Linked DNA regions of Homo sapiens: region 2 is linked to region 1. The links come from fine-mapping of genetic effects on gene expression. A gene starts in region 1. The other region holds a variant in brackets. All regions are shown on one strand. Distances are from middle to middle.

The links. PIP is the estimated chance that this variant, and not a neighbour inherited with it, causes the effect.
Region 2: its variant is the best candidate, but not a certain one, in a credible set for the expression of NXF3 in whole blood (GTEx, PIP 0.71).

Annotation. Positions count from the first base shown.
Region 1 is chrX:103,088,711-103,100,164 of GRCh38, forward strand. It overlaps NXF3 (nuclear RNA export factor 3), which reads right to left and starts at 4,433. Exons shown (of 20, transcript NM_022052.2): 1 at 4,286-4,433. The coding sequence starts at 4,313. It also overlaps the pseudogene LOC100128601.
Region 2 is chrX:103,050,543-103,061,996 of GRCh38, forward strand. No RefSeq gene overlaps it. Among named protein-coding and RNA genes, the nearest start is that of BEX1, 7.9 kb to the right of the region's middle. The variant C/A (reference allele first, on the strand shown) is at 6,846.

The sequences.
Region 1 (11,454 bases):
TTGCTGTTAATATTTGTAGGAAATCTTTTAGACAGTCAGCTCACTTAAAAAGACATGAACAGATTCATAATGAAAAGAGTCCTTATGCATCCCTTTGCCAAGTAGAATTTGGAAACTTGAACAATCTTTCTAATCATCCACGTAATAATGTTAACTATAATGATTCCCAACAATGTCAGGCTCCTGGTGTTCAAAAATACGAGGTCTCAGAGTCAGATCAAATGTCAGGAGTTAAGGCAGACTCACAGGATTTTATTCCTGGTAGCACCAGGCAGCCCTGTCTTCCTAATGTACTTTTGGAATCAGAGCAAAGCCATCCTTTTTGCAGTTATTCAGAACATCAGGAGAAAAATGATGTCTTCCTGTACCGACGCAGTGTTTGTGCTAGGAGTTTCTGATCTCCATCTATACTGGAAAAACACTAACTAATTCATGCAGGGCAGAAACTATTTGAATGCTCAGTTTGTGGCAAAACATTCCGACAGGCTCCTCACTGGAAGAGACATCAACTTACTCAATTTAAAGAACGACCACAAGAGAAACTGGTTGCCTTGGATTCGGTTATGTAAACTGTCACAACCACTAACAATTGTGGTCTCTGGTGATCTTATTTTTAAAGCCTGTATTATTTAAAATGCGTTTTTATCAAGAGGCCTGCATTAAATTGAATGGTTTCACAGGCATTTGTTTGTCCTGCATAGTAAGGAGGTAAAATACATAGAAAATTAATACAATGTTTTAGAAACAGCCAAATTAATTTTTAGAGGCAAGAACATGATTTGATGCTATAAAGTAGGCATTTTAATATTGTAAACATATGCTGTGTCTGTATTGAAAAATATAAATTCATGATGCTGTATAAATAATTTAGTCTCATTCATTTTTAAAGGAATTATTCCTTAAGACATGCCATCTCTTTTTATATATACTCAAAAGACCGAGAGGCAAAAATTGGTTTTTAGCTGCAGCACATATCCCTGCTATATTTCATTTATCTTACATTTCATATGAAAGCATAATTTTGTCCACATGTGGCTCAAATTGCATTGGAAATTTTTTGTAAATTTAAAGAACTACAGAGGCACTAAAGGTGAAAATGGATGAGAAAATTATAGTATTTTTTCATTGGTCTTTTCAAAGCTATTTATTTTTAGGACTATGTGGTAATTTCACTTCTTCAGGTGATTAAGGTTTTTTTTTTCTTTTTTTTTTCCCAGCGAGTGACATCTTTCTCAAAATAATTTAAAAGTAGGCAAGAGGCTAGGATGTATCCATATACATTTACCATGTTTATTTACCAGGAATATTTTCCAAGTGCCATAGTCTTTTTCATAATATGTATGCAGTTTTATCTTTTCAGAGGAATAATTTCAAGTCATTCATTTGCTCATTAATTATAGCAGTAGTCATAGATTTAAGACTCTATTCTAGAGATCTTCATCTCCATAAGACTTTAACATTTATTTTAGTAAACTTTTCTTTTTATGCCTCTTTAATGGAGTGGTCCTATTATTTAAGCCTGTTCTAAGTTTGATCAAATGGCAATGACTAGGTCTAGTTTTAGTTTTTATTTTTGCAAGAGTCTAATGCTAAATAATTTTATTTTGATCCTTGTTAAATTTTTATTTTGATTAGTAAGGTAGTCATTCCTGTAGAGGGATAAGATGCTTGTAGAGTTGTGGGTATCATTCCAAATAGAACTGTTATGATTTGGGAAATATTCTAAACTACAAAGGACTTATTTCATAATGACAAATTGTCCTTCACCTTTGCCTTTGTTTATAAAATCTTCAGGAATGACATTTTCTAGCAATAAAAGGAATTAACCATTATGTTTCTAAGCTGAAAAGAGGAACAGGTGGGTAATTATCCTACCATACTTAAATATAGTGGAAAATCCTCTATTGAGAATGTGGATAAAAGAACAATTGTAAATTTTGCATCATAATCTGAGAACTCCCTTTTGGGGCAGGGGGAGGCGGGAGGGATAGAAGGTGGGGGTGATCTGCTTGCTTCTTTTACCACAGGTGATTTTTAAGTAACTTGGGTTTAATTTACAGAGATGAAACATGGCAGTCTGAGTAAAACACCCAATGATGTAGAAGTGTGCCTGTTTATTACGTAGAGACAGCCAACAAAAACAGAGGAGAATCACATGCTTTAAAAAACACTTTCTCTTAGGTTTCCTTGGGATATGTTCTTCCAGTGCAGGCAAGATAGTGGTTTACAGAATTTGCTTAATACAAAACTTTTCAAGAACTCATCTGTTACACAAAAGCAAGGAATAGCTAGTTTATATTTTCCAATAATGTTCAAGGTTTTCTCCTTATTATGTCTGAAATTATTGATTTTGGCATTTTTCTAAGCAATTTATGTAATTTTATTTGAAGGAAATGTTTTATATACTCTTTTTCCCGACCTAAACAGGGAGAGTCCTAACAGTGTTGTGTTTGTATGATTATGAGGCTTTATTTGCCTAAGTGATGCTACTATACTTTTTTTTTGACCCATGCCTTTTTAAGCTGTTTCATATTGAAAGTTGGAATATTGTAAAAATTTTGTCAAAGATGTACTGAAGTGCTATTTGAAGTACCTATAACAAAACACAGTTGGTCCTCCGTATCCACGGACTCTGCCTCTGTGAATTAAACCAATTGCAGATCAAAAATAATAGGAGAGAAAAATATAAAAATAATACAAATAAAAAATACAATATAACTGTTATTTAAATAGCATTTACATTCCATTAGGTATTAGTCTAGAGATAAAGTATGCAGGAGGATGTGCGCTGGTTATATGCAAGTATGCCACTTTATGTAAGGGACTTGAGTATACTTGGATTTTTGGTATCTGTGGGTGGGCAGGGTAGGGGGGGTCCTGGAACCAATACCCCATGGATACCAAGGGACAACTGTACTTATTTACCTTTATTATTATTGCAAGCTTCTTAAGGAAACTTTATAGGAATGAAAATACACATGTTAAGAAGATTAGGCCAGGCGCGGTGGCTCATGCCTGTAATCCCAGCACTTTGGGAGGCCGAGACAGGTGGATCACGAGGTCAGGAGATCGAGACCATCCTGGCTAACACCGTGAAACCCCGTCTCTACTAAAAATACAAAAAATTAGCCAGGCATGGTGGCGGATGCCTGTAGTCCCAGCTACTCGGGAGGCTGAGGCAGAAGAATGGCGTGAACCCGGGAGGCAGAGCTCGCAGTGAGCCGAGATTGTGCCACTGCACTCCAGCCTGGGCGACACAGCAAGACTCCATCACAAAAAAAAAAAAAAAAAAAAAGAAGAAGATTAAACATTAGATATTAGATGGTCTGTTGCATGCTAGAACTGTTAGTATTGTTGGATCAATTACTTTGGTTTTATGAAAAAATTAATGATAAATATCTTTAAAGAGAACTAGAAGAATTTTTTGTTTGATTCTAGGCTGTAACATGATTATTTACGGACATAGTTTGATTGGCTGGCTAACTTAGTAGAATTAATTGGCTGGCTAACTTAGTAGAATTATTGTTTTTTTTTGTACTGCAATAGGGCTTATAATTGTAAGATAAAAATGTGTGTGTGCTTAAGGGAAGTAAGTGCTGGTTAAAATTATTGAAAAAATTTCAGAATACTTTAAAAATAAAGTTTCAAGTTATACAAAAAAAAAGAAATTCTAAATTTGTATGCATGTCTTAACATGGACCAATCTATGTTTAGATACAAAGCAAAAACTGATCTAAGTAAATAGAGAAATAGTTAAAACCACTGTGATGTGGGAATTTAACACACCTCTCTGAGTAACAGATAAAACTAGCAGACAAAAATTCAGCTACATATAGAAGATTTAAATGGCATGAGTAATAAGTTTGCTTAAATGACATAGAACACTGCACAGAAAACCTTCACATGGAACATTCCAGAATAAGTCATATGCTGGGCCATAAGGCTAGCCTTGATAAATTTCTGGGGCTGGGGTGGGAGGTAATACAATCTACCTTGAATGGTTAGTGTGAAGATTAAAGATGTATTCCCTGCCCCACTACCACCTCTAGTGTACATCCAAGGAATGTTAATTTTTACCAACCCCTGCCTCAGGTGACCCTCCTCATACCTCAAACCCTGGCCCTGAGAAGGCCACAAGACTCAGGCCTGGGCCCTTGCCACTGCCCACCCCCATCTAAAGGGAGATTGGCTGGGTGTTATGTGGGTTAGGGTAAGGTGGGGAAGGGGGCTCAGTCCCTTTTGCCCTGTGAGACCTGAGACTCCAGCCTCATGCTGGCCAACTCACCCGTAGTGTGTCCTGAAGGCAGTGACATTTTACCAATGTCCTTATAGGGCTCTCTTGAGGAGAATCTGTGTGGCCTGGGGACGGGAGTTTGGAGAAGATTGAGGAGGGCTGCTGACGAAGGCGAGAGCAAGCCTCAAGCCTTGCTTACAGGAAGTTCCTTCCCCAAGCATAGAGAGGAGTGTCCTAGGAGTCACAGAATTAACTTCCTGTTCTTACCACTCCCCAAAGTTTGCTGCCAGCCTAACACCCAGGGAGATGTTTCTAATGTAGCCACTCCTGCAAAGGTGGTTAGCAACAATCACAATCATGAGGCCTAGGACCCAGATACTTATTGAAACAAACACGGAAAACTCAGCTTGCTGGTCATCTCCAGTGCATTACATTGTATTCATTTACTCTGCAGACTCAGAGACTCAGAGACTCAGAGTGCCTATGGTAGCTCAAGCTCTGTACTTGCTACATTACTTTTTTCTCCATGTATTCCTCACAAGGGGACTCTCAACTCAGAATCACCAGCTTCCTGAAGGTGCTGAGGCTTAATGAGGTATAGGACCTTGTCTGGAATGATTCAGATGTGACCTGGAGAAACAAAGTGGAAATGAGAACCATGGAATAGTGGGTGACCCCTCTATGCACAGCTTTTCTAAACTCTTATAATATTTGGGGTTTACTTAAGTTAGGGCAAAGTAAGACAATGTTCTGCAAATACTCGTGTGACTGGAATTAACTACAGCCCATCCTAGAGAGAGAATACAAAAAACAGACCAGGAAAATATAAAGTAAAAGTTTAGTGTGTCACTGTAATGAAAGTAGAAAAGAATCAAGTATTGTCTTAAAGACAAAATAAAGTATAGTCAATGTAGATGGATACTCCTAATGATTAGAGCCAGAAATGTAGCTCTTAAAGTCTCAGGCCAGAGAGAGGGAATAAACTAGTGAGAGGTGACAGCTTGCTGGCAGCTCTCACAGCCCTCGCTCGCTCTCGGCACCTCCTCTGCCTGGGCTCCCACTTTGGCGGCACTTGAGGAGCCCTTCAGCCCGCCACTGCACTGTGGGAGCCCCTTCCTGGGCTGGCCGAGGCCAGAGCTGGCTCCCTCAGCTTGCGGGGAGGTGTAGAGGGAGAAGCGCTAGCGGTAACCGGGGCTGCGCGTGGCGCTTGCGGGCCAGCTGGAGTTCTGGGTGGGCGTGGGCTCGGTGGGCCCCACACTCGTAGCAGCCGGCCAGCGCTGCTGCCCTGGGCAATGAGGGGCTTAGCACCTGGGCCAGCAGCTGCTATGCTCAATTTCTCTCCAGGCCTTAGCTGCCTTCCCGCGGGGCAGGGCTCGGGACCTGCAGCCCGCCATGCCTGAGCCTCACCCCCACCCCCGCCTCCGTGGGCTCCTGTGCCGCCCAAGCCTCCCCAACGAGCGCCGCCCCCTGCTGCACGGCGCCCATCTATGAAGGTGGAGCTCTCGTGGCCTAATTACTTCCCTAAAGCCCTACCTCTTAATACTGTTGCACTGGAGATTAAGTTTCAATGTGAATTTTGGAGGAACACAAACACTCAAACCATATCATTTACCGTTTTATAAAAATGTTCACATAATATTGTTTTATAAAAAAAATAAAGATTTAGGCTGGGCATGGTGGCTCACGCCTGCAATCCCAGCACTTTGGGAGGCTGAGGCGGGTGGATCACTTGAGGTCAGCAGTTTGAGACCAGCCTGGCCAACATGGTGAAACCCCCTCTTTACTAAAAAATACTATTAACTGTGGACATCAAGTCTGAAAATAGCCATTATTAAAAACCTGATGAAAGTCTATTATAATAGTGATGCAATTGACAAAAAAATTTGGTTATTTCTGAACCAACATTGTGACTGATAGTATTTATACCAAGACATATCAGAGTTCTAGGAATGTTATACAATTTCGGAACACACATTAATAATATATCCATGTAAATATAACTCAGAGAAGATTAACCATCATTCCTTATTTAGACAGTGCTTCTCATATAAATGAACATATCAGATAAGCTGATGGTGTAATATCTCTTTTACAACTACTTTCAGAAGTTCTAGGGCTTGTCATAATATCCCAAAGTTACTTCAAGGTCAAAAATACTTAATTTTGATATTTGAGAAGTTTGTCAACTATCAGTGGTCTAGAATACTTGATCAAAATAGGATCACAGGTCACTATGAAATAAAATGGAAGTGACAAAAGATTTCACAGGCACAAAGCCCACGAAATTATCTTGATTAAACACAGAATCTCTGTTCCCTAGGCCAGTTACCTAAAAGGTAAAGAAAAACCTCGCACAATTTCCTTTTAAAAACAGCTTAATGTTCTGAGAAAACCCAGTTATTCCAACACAGGAGCCCAAAACCTTGCCTTCACCAGCGCATTTTTTATTAATCGTCAATTTTTGGCAAAACTTTGTATTATTTATAATTAGCTTCTATTTTAGGCAACTTGATGACACAAAAAATTTCTTTCATGAGATTTCTATTCTGTGAACTTTCTATAACTTGCAGTTTACTTTCCTTTTCCCTATATCATTTTGACCACACAAAGTTCTCTTAAGCAAAAGAAAAAATTACTTTTTTCATCTTTCTTTACCAAAACTACATCTTCATACTTATAACTTTTTTTTTAATCTCTTCTGCTTACCAGTTCATTCCCTGCCTTGTTTGTATTTCCTTCTGTAAACCAAAAATAAAATTCTAAGTCCCCTCAACCATCTGAATGGACTTTCTCCTCAGCCAGCGTTCTTAAAATTGAACCTGAGAGACTGTTTTAGGTCATGATGTGAAGTGGGGGTTGAACAGGCCTCATTATACCTCTTCAGCATTAACATCAACATAGGCTTTAAGTCTGATAAGAAATATTTCACAACCTATTCTCTCTGAAGCCTGCTAACTAAAAGCTTCATCTACATAGTAAAACTTTGGTCTCTACAACCTCTTATCACAACCCAGACATTCCTTTCTATTGGTCACAGTTCTTTAGACAACCTCAACGAATTGTCAACCAGAAAATGTTTAAATTTACCTTAAATTTACTGATAGCCTGGAAGCCCCGCCTTGGAATTGTCCCACCTTCCTGGACCAAACCAATGTATTTCTTAAATGTATGTGATTGACGTCTCATGCCTCCCTAAAATGTATAAAACCAAGCTGCACCCTCACCTCCTTGGGCACATGTTCTCAGGACCTCCTGAGGGCTGTGTCAAGGGCCATGGTTGCTCATATTTGGCTCAGAATAAATCCCTTTAAATATTTTAGAGTTTGACACTTTTTGTCGACACTTCCTAAATCTATATTTTGAAATATCCTTTCAAAAACCTCCAAATTAGATGAAATTTGCTCTTTTAACAAAAATATATTCTCATGTCTTTTTACAATTTCTCTTGCCAAAATGAGAGACAGGACTAGCTGGATTTCCTAGGCCGACTAAGAATCCCTAAGCCTAGCTGGGAAGGTGACCGCATCCACCTTTAAACACGGAGCTTGCAACTTAGCTCACACCCGACCAATCAGAGAGCTCACTAAAATGCGAATTAGGCAAAAACAGGAGGTAAAGAAATAGCCAATCATCTATTGCCTGAGAGCACAGCGGGAGGGACAAGGATCGGGATATAAACCCAGGCATTCGAGCCGGCAACGTCAACCCCTTTCGGTCCCCTCCCCTTGTATGGGAGCTCTGTTTTCACTCTATTTCACTCTATTAAATCTTGCAACTGCACTCTTCTGGTCCGTGTTTGTTATGGCTCGAGCTGAGCTTTTGCTCGCCATTCACCACTGCTGTATTGCAGCTGTCGCAGACCCGCTGCTGACTTCCACCCCTCCGGATCCAGCAGGGTGTCCGCTGTGCTCCTGATCTAGCGAGGTGCCCATTACCACTCCCCATCTGGCTAAAGGCTTGCCATTGTTCCCACATGGCTAAGTGCCTGGGTTCGTACTAATCGAGCTGAACACTAGTCACTGGATTCCACGGTTCTTTTCCATGACCCACGACTTCTAATAGAGCTATAACACTCACCGCATGGCCCAAGATTCCATTCCTTGGAATCCGTGAGGCCAAGAACCCCAGGTCAGAGAACATGAGGCTTGCCACCATCTTGGAAGTGGCCTGTTGCCATTTTGGAAGTGGCCCACCACCATCTTGGGAGCTCTGGGAGCAAGGACCCCCAGTAACAAAAACACACCTTACTTTCCTTGTACACTTTACATACATATATTTTTTTTATTTCTAGTAATTTTAATTACATATTTAATTAAAATTTTGAATTCTTAGTAAGCTTATTTTTTATGAAAATGTAAGAAATGGCAATTTGAACTGTCTTATGCCAATATTTTATGAATATACTGAAGAGAATCAAAATATTTCATCCCAAAATATACTTCTTTGACATGTTTTGAGATGGCTATCCAGACAGCCAACTGAGGCAGGGAAATAGGATCTGGAGGTAGGGAACATAAGGCTGATTCACACTTCAGCCATGACAGGAAATATCCTCTCCATAGGGCACAGGCCAAGTAAATGACTTTGTAACTTCATCCTCTCCATTTACATAGGGCATACCCCAAGTAACCAATGGAATCCTCTAGGGGATATTTAAACTCCCAAAAATTCTGTAATGGGGTCTTTGAGCCCCTATGCTCAGGCCCGCTCCCACACTATGGAGTGTACTTTCATTTTCAATAAAACCCTTCATTCCTTCCTTGCTTTGTTTGTGCGTTTTGTCCAATTCCTTGTTCATGACGCCAAGAACCTGGACATCTTCCACCATTAACACAATGAGCAGAAGTAACCCCACAAAACTCTTTTCTTGTGGAAGATTTTGCATCTATAAAGAATCTGCATTGATGCAACCAAAGTTTCTCTGAAGCCCTTCTTTGTCTAGATCTAGGAAAGATTAACTGAGAGTCTGACACCTTAAAGGTCTATGAAAAATATTTATCATCTATTGTTTCTGATGGCTGCTACCTGTCATGTTTCATCTACATAACAAGACAACCTTTGCCAGCCAGGTCTCCACTTCTCTCCCTCCCATAACCCATCTTGCAGCTATAACCTGATTTACCACCACAACCTGTTTTTGGCTATGCTCCAAGTCCCCATTCTTTCTGTAACCTCGAAATAGTATATAAGCTTCCGTACTCCAATAGGGGGCGGGGGGGAATCACTCTGTGATTCTCTCCACGCAAGCCAATAAATGTGCGTGCCATTTCTCCTATTAATCTCCCTCTTGTGAGTTGATTTTTCAGCAAATCTTCACAGAGTGAAGGAGAGGTCTTCCTTTGGCCCCTACAGTTTATTTCATAATTTCTAGAGGCATGTACTTTCTCATAGAACAAATTTTTAAGTGTTTACTAACAGACCCAAATATATTTTGCTTCTCTATACCACATAAAAGCAAGATGCCAACGTATATAAATTTTAAACATGTGATTAGTAATTAATGTTTTAGTATTCTAACTTATTTAGAAATAACCTGAACATTTAATGACTATTTATTACTTAAGGATTTAAGTTACCAAAAAGATTTCTGAAACTATGAAGAGTTCATTTATAAACATTTGTGCCTAATTTACATATTTAATACCTTTTTGTGATCTATAATGTTTGTGATCCTAAATGTCTCAAAATGGAGTCACTTATGACAAGTGACTCAGCTGATAGTGAAACTACTGAGCTCTGAGAGTGATAAGCATATGTATGGTGGAATGAGGTGATAAGATGACACTTGCTGTGGCCAGACACTGTTAGGGGTGGCGAATATTCGTTACTGACAGCTAATCCATACTGGTCTGCAGCAACTGCAGTTCCTGCCTACTCAGAAGAAAGAATTTGACTGAGGGGCATAAGGCAGAAGAAGAGACTGAGGCAAGTTTTAGAGCAGGAGTAGAAGTTTGTTAAAAAGCTCTAGAGCAGGAGTAGAAGTTTGTTAAAAAGCTCTAGAGCAGGAACGAAAGAAAGGAAAGGACACTTGGAAGGGGCCCCAATGGGCAACTTGAAAGACAAGTGCAGCATTTGACCTTTTGACTTGTATATGCTGGACTACTTTTGGTGTCTTGCATCCCTTTCCCTTTATTCTTCCTTTAGGGTGGGCTACCCACATGTACAGTGCCCTCATTGCACTTGGGAGGTGAGCATGTGCAGTGTGTTTACTGCAGTTGTACACATGCTCAACAGAGGCTTTCTTCCCTTTTCCAGTGGAATGCCCCCAGAAGGTCATACTCTGCCTTTTTGTCTCTTAATGTGCATGCCCAGGCTCACTTGCCCAATACCTGAGATTTTACTGGAAGCTGCTGATTACCAATTTCAAGTGTTTTTATCTATTGGGAAATTGCCTCTCCCTGGCACCTGTGACCAATTACATTTTAATGTGACAACTGCTGGATCATCAGGAAATTGCCTCTCCCTGGTGCCTGTGACCAATTCTCATTTTTAGAGAGGCAGTGTGACAACTGCCGAATCATCACCTGATGGTCACCTGACATTTCTGGTGCAGGGGTGGGGAGCCCTCTCCTGCCCCACTCATGCCTGACTAGCTACCTGCTGTAACAAGACTTGACAAGACAGTGAAGCCAAAAGGTAGCTGAAGAAGATGGGTATGGATACTGGACACTTTTACAGAGGACCATAAAACCCACAAAGAAACGGACCACGACAGAGACACCTGTAGAAACTCTGCCTGTGAGAACTCAGAGGCCTCTTTTCCATCCATTGCAGTTACCGGAAGCACTGCTGAGAGAAAAGAAGCATCCCCCCCGCCCCCTCCCAGTCAGTAGGCTGGTCTCCTGAACTACTTGCTGTGTTCCTTCTCTCTGTCTATAACTGTCTGTGTCTTTGAATATATTTGCGTGATTGGTGGTGTGTGAACGCCTTGGAGTAAACTATGAATTTGTAGGAATTTAATTAGTCACTGAGTCATTTTGAAACATTCCCCTCACCACCCTCATAAGAATTTGCCCAACCAGACTGATTTGACCTGACACAAGATCATGAAAATTCTATGAGACATTGAATAAAACTAACCACCATCTCCAGTTATTCTGTTAATCATTTTTACAGCATAAAAATGTTAGGCATTGGCCACTTAATCAAAAATCCGAAAGTTAAATACATGGGTATTTTTGCTGATCAGAAGACACAATTGTTTCCAGTCTTATTTACCA
Region 2 (11,454 bases), 38 kb before region 1:
CCCAAGTAGCTGGGACTACAGATGCATGCCACCATGCCCAGCTAATTTTTGTATTTTAATAGAGACGGGGTTTCAGTATGATGGCCAGGCTGGTCTCGAACTCCTGACCTCATAATCCGCCCACCTCAGCCTCCCAAAGTGCAGGGATTACAGGCATGAGCCACCGCACCTGGCTGGTTTGTTTCTCTTGATAGCAGGTCTTGTTAAGAAGAACGAAAGGTTCTGTGTATATATCAGAATGGTTACTTTTAGCATCCCCTTGTCAGAAGCAGGAAGGTATTTTTTTTCTGATCTTCACTGTGAGAAACTGGTAGGGCTCCGGACATAAACACACAAAAGTAGGGGTGGATACAGGCTGAGACTGAGCCCACCTGGAATTTCCAACTCTTAATCTTGTCTACACTGAACCTTCAGTAATTTGTCAATTATGGGTTATGTTTTCCTACCGTGGTACAAGCTCCAGTGGTGGTTTCTGCTCCTGGGCTCCTGCTCCAGGTAAGCTGTGATTCTTTGTATACACCTGTCTGTCTCTCCAATTTGGGGGGACAGTAGTTTGCCCTGTGACCTCAATTCTCTCATAGTCTAAGAATTGTTGATTTTCAGTTTATCAGTTTTTACATTGTTGGAGAGAGAGAGAGAGAGAGAGATAAAGAGAGAGAGAGTGAGTCCCGGCCAGAGTCTATCCCATTCCCGGGTTTCAGCACCAGAATGTAAGGTCAGCCAAGAGAAAGGAGGAATAGACCCAAATTCAGGCAAGTACGTTTATTGAACCTGCTGGCTACTCCACTACAGACAGAGAAGGCAGCTCTGAGCTTACAAAATGAGAGATTTATATGGGGAAGAGAGACCCTGGGGTTGTTTGCTGGTTAATTTTGCCACATATCACCTTGTGACGTTTATTACAGGGGTGTAGGTAAAGTTTGTTTATGCTTCCCACGACCTCCCCTGGTGCGGTCCGGATGGTTTATAATTGGGGTTTGTTTATTGCAGCAAGGTCTGATAAGTGATGCTGGCTTCACTGCAGCGCCTGGATAAGGGCATAGAAATGTAAAGAGGCTTGGGGGAAGGAGAAGAGTTGCAGAGTGTAGGGGAAGGGACGGGCAGCACGGAGAGGTTTGGGGGAAGTGTTGGCAGTACCAAGAAGTTTTTTGGGGCAGCTTGTCCCTAACAGTAGGCATGATATTTAAGATGAGTCCTAAAGAGTAAATAGTTGTTAGCCAGGGCAGGAGTGTGGTTAGCCTCCCAGGAGAAACAGCAAATGCACAGGCTCTAAGGCAGGAAAGTCCTCAGCCCATTTAGAACTAAAGGAAAGCAGTGTCGCTGGAGCTTAGCAATGAAGGGAAAGAGTACCTGTGTCAGAGTAGTGGCCAAGAGCCAGATCTTACAGGGCCTGAAGGGTTTTATTTTTTTTTAACTACCTGAATGCAACAGAGGCATTTATTGGATATAATGAGGGGAGGTGTATGCTCTAATTATCTTGTAAAATGTTCTGGCTGGGTGCAATGCCTCACGCCCATAATCCCAGCACTTTAGGAGGCCAAGGCAGGCAGATCACGAGGTCAGGAGATCAAGACCATCCTGTCCAACATGGTGAAACCTCATCTCTACTAAAATACAAAAAAAGTTGGCCGGGTGTGGTGGCACACACCTGTAGTCCCAGCTACTCAGGAGGCTGACACAGGGGAATCGCTTGAACCCAGGAGGCAGAGGTTGCAGTGAGCCGAGATCGCGCCACTGCACTCCAGACTGGTGGAAGAGTGAGACTCTTTCTCAAAGAAAAAAAAAATGTTCCTTGGATTGCCATATAGAGACTGGATTGGAGAAGGGTAAGAGGAGAAACCGAAAGACCAGTTCACTGATTATTCAGTGGCCTAAGATCTGTGATAGATACAAAACAATTATGAAACATAATTTAAGGCATCATGGGGTGTGGGTGGGAGCAGAACATGGGATGCCTGTGCAGGTCCACTGTTGCATGTAACAACTGCTGGGGAAAAAAAATTGAAAAATTATGGGGTCCTGTCAGCCCAATAAAAGTCTGAGAAGGGGAGTATCTGTAGAGCCAGAGAAGTTATTGTGAGGAAGATGAATCTGGGTCTGATCTAGAAAGGTGGATTGGATTGGAGGGTTTTTTTTTTGTTTGTTTCCCTTTGTTGTTGTTGTTTGAGATGTTCTGGAAAGGGCTAGTGAAGTAAAGAGAGTAACCTGGCCTAAGAAGTGAACAAACAGTGCCCAGTGGAAGCCTTTGCAAACCTCAGCAAGATTCAAAGCTGAGACAACCAAAGTGTTTGTTTTTCAGGGATGTTGTGCAACAACATTCAATGCTGACTTTCTATCTACTCCTGGAAGGAGAGGGATGCCCAACATGGTCCACAGAGCAGGGCAAGATTATGGGAAGGGAGGTGCTGTGTATGTGATAAGAGTAACAACTCTAAAGAATGTATCTATTTGCAGTTCTCCTCACTTGATTCTGTTCCTCAGTGACTGGTTTTGTGGGCATCCTGTGGGCACAGACCCACATGATTTCCCCTTAGCTCTAGTGAATGGCCTTGTCAGAGCTGGTACTCTGAAAAATGCTCCTTGTTCCGGTTTTAACCCCAGGGATCCAGGGATCCCTCAGATTTTTGTCCATTGGGGAGCTTTTATTGAGTCATATTATTTAGCCTCTCTCTCTCTCTCTCTCTGGATCCTCTATTTTTTTTTCTCTCCTCCCCTGGGTGTTGGCACTTTCTGGATTGCCTCAGTTATTTAAGCCCCGCTTCCTTTCCTTCCAAAGATTATTCAGCATGTCTTCTTTCTGTCTTTCACCTCCCACCAGGTCCTCTTGGAGTCCATAGTGTCCTCAGCCATTCCTATGTTTGAGGCTCCCAGTGTCATCTATACCTACCTAACATGAATTTCCCTCTTCCTGCCTAACAGAACTCCAAATATCTGGATGTCAATGCCATCCCACTTCACCACAAGCTTCAGAGGACAGGTCCTAGTTATTCTGAACCTGTCAATACCTGGAATTTACCTAAGGGCCATTACTGGTTGAGGGTGGCCAATCCTCTTAAAATGGCCTGATCATATTGAAGGGATGGCATTTTATTCCATAGTTAGGAAAGGTTTTCCCCTCTCTCCTGAGGGACAGAAACAAAGAAGAATGTACACTCTATCACAATAAACAGCCATCTTGTTACATTAGGGATAATTCCAGCCTTAGGATGAAGCTGACACCAGGCATAGCAGAAGCTGACCAGAAATGGAAGGAACCTGGATCCTTAACGACTTCATTTAGTTACTGAATCAATGGCCCCTGATGCCTGTCCTACCTACCTGTGCTCTTCCTGCTATGTGAGATCACAAACTTCCTTAATAGTTAAGCTAGTTCGAGGGGATTATTTTTTATATACAGCTAAAACTCCCTATGCAATATAATTGATATAACAACATTGCCTAAAAAGTTTTCCATTTCATTCTGCTCAGAACTACTCCATTATTTATAATGGCTGTATAGTTTTTCCAAGTATTATTTCATCTTAATGTACTAATCTTTCCCATTATTTCTAAGCATTAAAGTCTTATTGAGTTTTTTGGTTTTTCAAAAGTGCTAAAATAAACATCCTATTATTGCATATATTTACATTCTTGCACACTTGGATATTTTCAAAGCCCAGATACAAATTATTTGTATGACTACTCACTTGTGATATAGTACAGTAATAGGCATAGAATTTCTAGGTTATAGATATTCTTTTAATACTTATTTCCAAGCCACCTTCCAGAAATGTTGTACCAGTTCTCATTCTCACCAGCACCGTATAAAATTGCCCATTTTTCTGAACCCTCATCTCTAGGTATGAATAATTAATAATGTCATGGATTCAGAAGTCAGACTGTCTATGTTCAACTCCAGCCTCACAAGTATAAAGTAATGTGGCTTTGAATATGTGGTCCAATCTCCTTATAATAGCATCTGTAAGCAATTTATATGGTTAGGGAAATTGAATGAGTAAGGCGTGTAAAGCACTTAGATCATAAGTTGTCAATAAATGTTGGCTGATGTTATTATCAAAATTATTTGCCAAGTTAATACTTCAAAATGTTACTTGCTCTCATTTGCATTTCCTTGATTACTAGCTGATGTGGACTGAATGTTTGTGTTTCCCCAAAATTAGTATGTTCAAGCCCTAATCCCCAATGTAATGGTATTTGGAGGTAGGATCCTTAGAAGGTACTTAGGATTAGATTAGATCATGAGAGTGAGGCTCTCAGGAGGAGATTAGTGGCCTTATAAAAAGAAAAAGAGTCACAGGATCTCTTTCTCTGCCTGTGAAGATACAGCAAGAAGGAAGCCATCTATAATGCAAGCTGGGAAGAAAACCCTCACTGAACTCAACAATGCTGGCACTCTGACTCCAACCTCCAGACAGTGAGAAGTAAAATTCTGTTGTTTAAGCCACCTAGTCTATGGTATTTTGTTATAGCAGCTTGAGCTAAGATGTGGATGAAATTGATCATTTTTTCCACGTGTCTATTAGTCAGTCATAAAATTTTTTACCTTTCCTTTTTTGTCGTTTTTGATATTTTTATGTTCCCCTTTCCTTGATTGATTTGAATCAATTTACTATATAGTTATAATATTAATCCTTTGTCTTTCCTATATGTAATATTTTTCAGTATTTCATTTGCCTGTTTTTACATTGTACTTATACAAAAGTTTATTTTTTATGTAATAAAATCAGTTATTTTATGTTTAATTTCCTTGAGTCATATGCTGAGAAATGCCTTTAACATACTTGAATTAAATAATTATCTGTACTTTCTCGTACTTTCTCCCAGTTTTGTTATTATTGTACTCAATTTGTTAATCCATTTAACAACTTTGTTTCAAAGAATTCTTAAAGATATTTCAAAAAGATTATGGTTGCTTTTTTTTTTTTTTTTTTTTTTTTTTGAGACGGAGTCTTGCTCTGTCACCCAGGCTGGCGTGCAGTGGTGCGATCTCAGCTCATTGCAAGCTCTGCCTCCCGGGTTCACGCCATTCTCCTGCCTCAGCCTCCCAAGTAGCTAGGACTACAGGCACCCGCCACCAGGCCCAGCTAATTTTTTGTATTTCTAGTAGAGATGGAGTTTCACCGTGTTATCCAGGATGGTCTCGATCTCCTGACCTAGTGATCTGCCTGCCTCGGTCTCCCAAAGTGCTGGGATTACAGGTGTGAACCACCACGCCCAGCCAAGATTATGTTTAAATGTTAAGTGAAAAAGGAACATAAAATGGTATGTACAGTATGATCCAATTTTTATAGAATAAGATTCTATGTATGAATATTTCATGTAGAAAAATCTAAACAAAAAGAAACTGAAATATTTATCAATATTTAGTAGAATTAAGATTTTTAATTTTTTCTTTGTGTTTTCCAAAATGATTGTTTATCATTTTTATCAGACATTTTAAAGTAAGTTTTTTTAATTTTAAAAACATGGTATAGCTTTTAAATGATTTGGAATGGTGCTATTTAATAGAAATATATTATGAGCTACAAATCTAATTTTAAGTTTTGTAGTAAACATAATTTAAAAGTAAAAAGAAACAGATAAAATTAATTTTAATAATATATTTAACACAGTATATCCAAAATGCTATCACTTCAACACATAATCAATATAAAATTACTGATATTTCACTTTATTGTACTATGTCTTTAAAATCCTGTGTGTACTTTATACTTTTAGCACATCTCCAATTGCATTAGTCACTTTTTAAGTTCTCAATAGCCAAATATGGCTCATGGTTACCTTATTGTAAATTGCAGATTTGGAGCATAAAAAGTATTGAATTCCGCATTGGTCTGAATCTCAATCATTTGCTGAACGATTGCTTCATATCACTTTTGAAATGTATTTGATATGAATTAAAGAATACAAATTGAAGTGCCTCTAGGGGCCAGGAAGGTAACTAGGTAATGTAAACAAGCTTTACTTTCTTTAAAGCTGAGTAAGGAAAGTAAAACGGAAACACCTGCCTTTCTAAAGGATTGAAACCACCACTAGGCTACCTCCAGTCAACTGATGCAATGTGGGAATGCAACCCCAGGGTTTACAAAACTCCTGGTTTTTCATGAAAATCTAAAATCTCGATTTTTCCTGTGGAATTTATCAATTTTTAAATATCAGCAGTGATTCAAAAATCATATATCACTGTGTGATACAAACTATGTGCTTGTCAGATTTGATCCTCTTTAGGCCAAATTTTGACATCTGGGATCAATAAATACTTTTTAAAACCCACTAATGTTATTAACTTTTAAAGATTAGACTACCCATTTTTAGTGAATCAAAAGCATTTTTTCATTTTACTGCTTTATAACATTAACAGCTAGCATTTACTGAGAACTTAGTATATGAAGGGCATCTTGCTAAACACTTTCTACATTTCACAGGTAAGAGAAATAAAGGTAAGGGAGGTTGACCAACTTTGTTTAAGGTCACACACGGTACTTGTAAGTGGTGGTGCCAATATTTGAAGTAAGGTCTCCTGACTCCAAAGTCCATGCTTCTACAAACACTCCTTTAAACTGCCTAGGAGTATTCATGTCTAGGTAATCAACCAATCTATCCCTTCCCACCATTACACCTCCCCCACTTTTCACAAACACACACACACGCACACTCTCACACACTTTTCTTGGCCCTTTTGCTCATAAGAGTACTGTATACAGCTGACTTCTGTCTGCCTTGATCTCTTTTTCTTTCATCTTCCCCTCATTTATGCTCATCCTACATCTCCTTTACAACATGTATTTCCTTTTCCCACTTTCATCTTTCATTTTCTTTGCATGGGAATGTTCCTCTTTTAATCA[C/A]ATTGATGAGGGAGGCCTTTAAGCAAGTGGTGTGCTCTTGACAGCAAATTGTGCACATCCCTTCTCAACTCTGCGTTAAGTGACATCATGTTGGTAGCTGGAAATCAACTGTAGCAGGAGCATTTACATAGTGGAAATAGGCTAACACTACAAATAGTTTAATGGAAACTCAGTTGTTAAACATTTATCAATACACAACTGCCTTTGTCCTTGTTAGGACCTCCAATAGAAAGCTTATCTTTATATCTGCCCATCTACATTTCCTTTGGTTCTGTAAATACTGTCTTTTGGAATTCAAACTCTCACTACCTCCTTCAACGATTATATTGATTCATAGCTTGTGTGGTAAATTTTATTCCTTTAACATTCATAAGAATTTTATTTTCTAGTTCTGTTGGAACAGTTTACTATAAATTCCCCATGGAATGAAACTACTTTTTATTCTTTAAAAAAAATCCATTTTAGTACCTCAAGTATCCATTAGTTAATAGCTAATGGATCTGTGCTGAATGCATTTTCTTCACTGGGCTAGTCGAATATTACCGGCAGAACCCCCTTCAGCTCATTCTGCATTGTTTTGTGCCCTGTTTTTGCATCTCTCCTTCTCTCTTAAGCTGCCTCTTACCCTGCACTTATGCCATCTATTTCATAGTTCCTTTCCTTAAAATCTTCTAAAATTTGTCCTTGGTCTTCTAGTTTTGTTTCAGCCCCATGCTGTTTAAAGGATCTCCAAGTCTCTGCTCATGAGAGCATACTATTATTATTATTTTTCTTCCTGAAGCACTTCCATTGCCCCACCTCCATGGGACTACTTCCAGATGACGTTGACTAGATGAACCCAATCTTTTCAGTATCGTATTCACAGATATTTTCCTGCTTTATCCACAGAGATGGAAAATCATGTCTGTTGTCTATCAGATTTACTCATTTATAATGCTCACAGGACATCTTTATTTCCAAAATGTGAGGCCCTGAAGACTCACAAGTTATATCCTCCATGTACAGTCAGTTGTCCCTCAATGTCCATGGGGAACTGGTGTCAGGAACCCCCAGGAATATAAAAATCTGCAGATGCTCAGTTTCTTAAAATAAAATGACATAGAATTTGCCCATAACCTATACACATCCTCCTGTAAACTTTACACAACGTCTAGATTACATTTAATACCTTATACAATGCCTACATATAACTTTGTTAAATGCAGATTCCATGTAGTACTTGGCATATTGCAAATTCAAATTTTTCTTGTTGAAACTTTATAGAATTTGTTTTTCCAAATATTTTTGATCCACGATTGGGTGAATCCATGGATGCGGAACCCACAAATATGAAGGGCCTACTGTATTTATATTAGTCCCCTAAATTTTGTGTGTCTTGAGAAAAAAAAAAATGGCTTCTTGGTGACATACTCCATCCCTTCTTCAATCAAACTGGATAATGAAATGGTTTCTTATGCTTTTTGGTTTATCCTGTTGTCTCAGTCCCATGTTTCCTCTAATAGCACTGTAATACAACTTGTCATTGAAGGTATTTACTCAATGGCAATAGTGAATGGTAATCTTGTAATTTATGCCTGCATCTTTCCGACTTTATCAGCCTGCAGCCAGTTTTTCTTTTTTTTTTTTCTTTTTGAGACAAAGTCTCGCTCTGTCTCCCAGGCTGGAGTGCAATGGCGCGATCTCGGCTCACTGCAACCTCCGCCTCCCGGGTTCAAGCAATTCTCCTGCCTCAGCCTCCTGAGTAGCTGGTATTACAGGCGCCCACCACCACACCCTGCTAGTTTTCATATTTTTAGTAGAGATGGGGTTTCGCCATGTTGGCTAGGCTGGTCTCCAACTCCTGACCCATCTCAGCCTCCCAAAGTGCTGGGATTACAGGCATGAGCCACCATGCAGGTATTTTTTTTCCTTCTAGAGTTAAACAAGTTACTTTGACAAATCTGAGTACATGTAACTATTTGACAAGACTTCTGAAAAATGCAGATATCAGAGTATCAAATGATTGTTTGGGGTTACTCAGTTGTGTGTCACAACCCTTCCTTATCCTCAGACTGTCTTAAATTTTCATTGCATAAACAGACCAGCTTTTCTGTTATCATTTGCTAGACTTTCAGAGTCTGTGACCCCAGACCTATGTTGGATCTGAGGCGTTTTTTCAAACACGCATTCTTTTGTCAGCTTCTCCGTAGAAGGCTTTACATTAGGTGTTTCCTGTTATTTGTAATTTGATGAGGCCAATAGTGTTCCTCAAGCACATAATTTATTTTGTGTTAGTTTACATAGTTTCAGGTTAAAAATTATGAGACCTGGGAGGGCACAGTGGCTCACACCTGTAATCCCAACACTTTGGGAGGCCAAGGCAGGCAGATCACCTGAGGTCAGGAGTTCGAGACCAGCCTGGCCAACATGGTGAAACTCTGTCTCTACTAAAAATACAAAAATTAGCCAGGCATGGTGGCGGGCAACTGTAATCCCAGCTACTTGGGAGGCTGAGACAGCAGAATCATTTGAACCCGGGAGGCAGAGGCTGTAGTGAGCTGAGACTGTCATTGCACTCCAGCCTAGGCAACAAGAGTGAAACTCCATCTCTCTCTCTCTCTCTCTCTCTCTCTCTCTCTCTCTCTCTCTCTATATATATATATATATATATATATATATATATATATATATATAACTACTGAGAATTTGAAGAGTGGACATTAAGAAATTTTTGCCCATTTTTATGTTTGATAATGGTGCTGTGGTTGTTTTAAAACACCATTATCCTTTAGAGACTGTATTAATTATCTATTGTTGTGTAACAAATCACCCCAAAATTTAGCAGCTTACAAGAACGTTCATTTATTATCCCAGAGATTCTGTGAGTCAAAAGTCTGGGTGTGGCTTATCTGGATCCTCCACCTCAGGGTCTTTTAGAAGGCTGCAATCAAGATGTTAGCCTGGGCCACAGTTTTATCTGAAGACTAAGCTGGGCAAGAATCTGCTTCCAAACTCACCTTTGTTGTTTTGGCAGGATTCAATTCCTCGAGGGCTATTAGACTGAGGGCCTGAGTTCCTCACTGGCTGTTGGCTGGCGAACACTCTCAATTCCTTGCTATATGTGCCTCTCCAACATGGCAGCTTGTTTCATCAAAGCCAGCAAAAGTGGGAGGAAGGAGGAAGGAAGAGACAGAATGAATCTGCTAGCAAGATGACAATCACAATCTTCTGTAACATAATCACAGAAGTGACATCCCGTCACTTTTGCTGTATTCTATTGATTAAGACAGTTATTTTACCTGCACTCCATAGGAGGGATAATTACACCAAGGCATGAATACTCTATCCAAGGCTAACATGAAATTTACATATCTCAGTTCTGTCAATGGGAATTTTTATGTGTTTCAATTGCATTTGTAAGCTAACTGAATAGTTCTTTGGATCTGGATCTGTTGTTAGCTTGTATTTCTTCTTAACGTAATCCATGTTAAGAAAAATGCAGTTGAGTACAGAAGAAATCACCTAATATTCCACAAAAGATAATAAAATTCAAATTGTTATGTAATAAATCTAATGCTTTTTTCATGATCTCATCCTTTACATTTTAATGGTTCCCTGAACTGAATTCAGATATTCACCTTTATATTCTGCAAGTTATTATGGCTTTTAAGAACTGATATCAGCTGGGCACGGTGGCTCACGCCTGTAATCCCAGCACTTTGGGAGGCCGAGGTGGGCAGATCACAAGGTCAGGAGATCCAGACCATCCTGGCTAACACGGTGAAACACCATCTCTACTAAAAAATACAAAAAATTAGCCGGGCGTGGTGGCGGGTGCCTGTAGTCCCAGCTACTCAGGAGGCTGAGGCAGGAGAATGGCGTGAACCCGGAAGGCAGAGGTGCAACAGAGCGAGACTCCGTCTCAGAAAAAAAAAAAAAATTGACATCATAGTAAATATTTACATACCAGTAGCCATTTAGACATTAATGTGCATCAGAATCACCAGGAAAGCTTGCTAAAAACAAAAGTTCTGAAGCCCCATTCAGGGGATCTATGTTGGGACCCAAGAACTTTGTATGAATCCACATTTTCAAGAAATCCCCTGGTGATTCTCACACAGGTGGCAGATTAGCATAGTTTTAGAAACACTGTGACATTACTAAATGAACCCAGTGTTCCTTTAGGAATGGCAAGTAATCTAAGTTACACATCCAAAGTTATTTACTTGTTTAGAAACTGAACCGAGACAAAAACTCAGAGCTCCTGACTCAGTCATTATTAATTTTACTTCGGTTAAGTGCCTGCCTCGTCATGAAGAAACCACAGCATGACCAACAGACATTTTATTCCTGAGAATAGGAACTATGCTGGACTAGTGAGACCTACCTTTGAGCACTCTGCTAAACATCTGAAGGGAAAATCTGAGGATGAGAGTCTTGCATAATAGGTGTGGATGGGAGAAAAAACAGGTAAACACAGGTCTCACACAAATGACCTCATTCCAGTCATGTGAAGGAAATGCCACCCCCAACTTATACAAATTCCTGAGTTTATTTACCTGGCTAAGAGATCCAAATTTGATTAGCAAGTATTTTTTTTTTCTTTTTTTAAGAAAACTTTTAGGTTCCA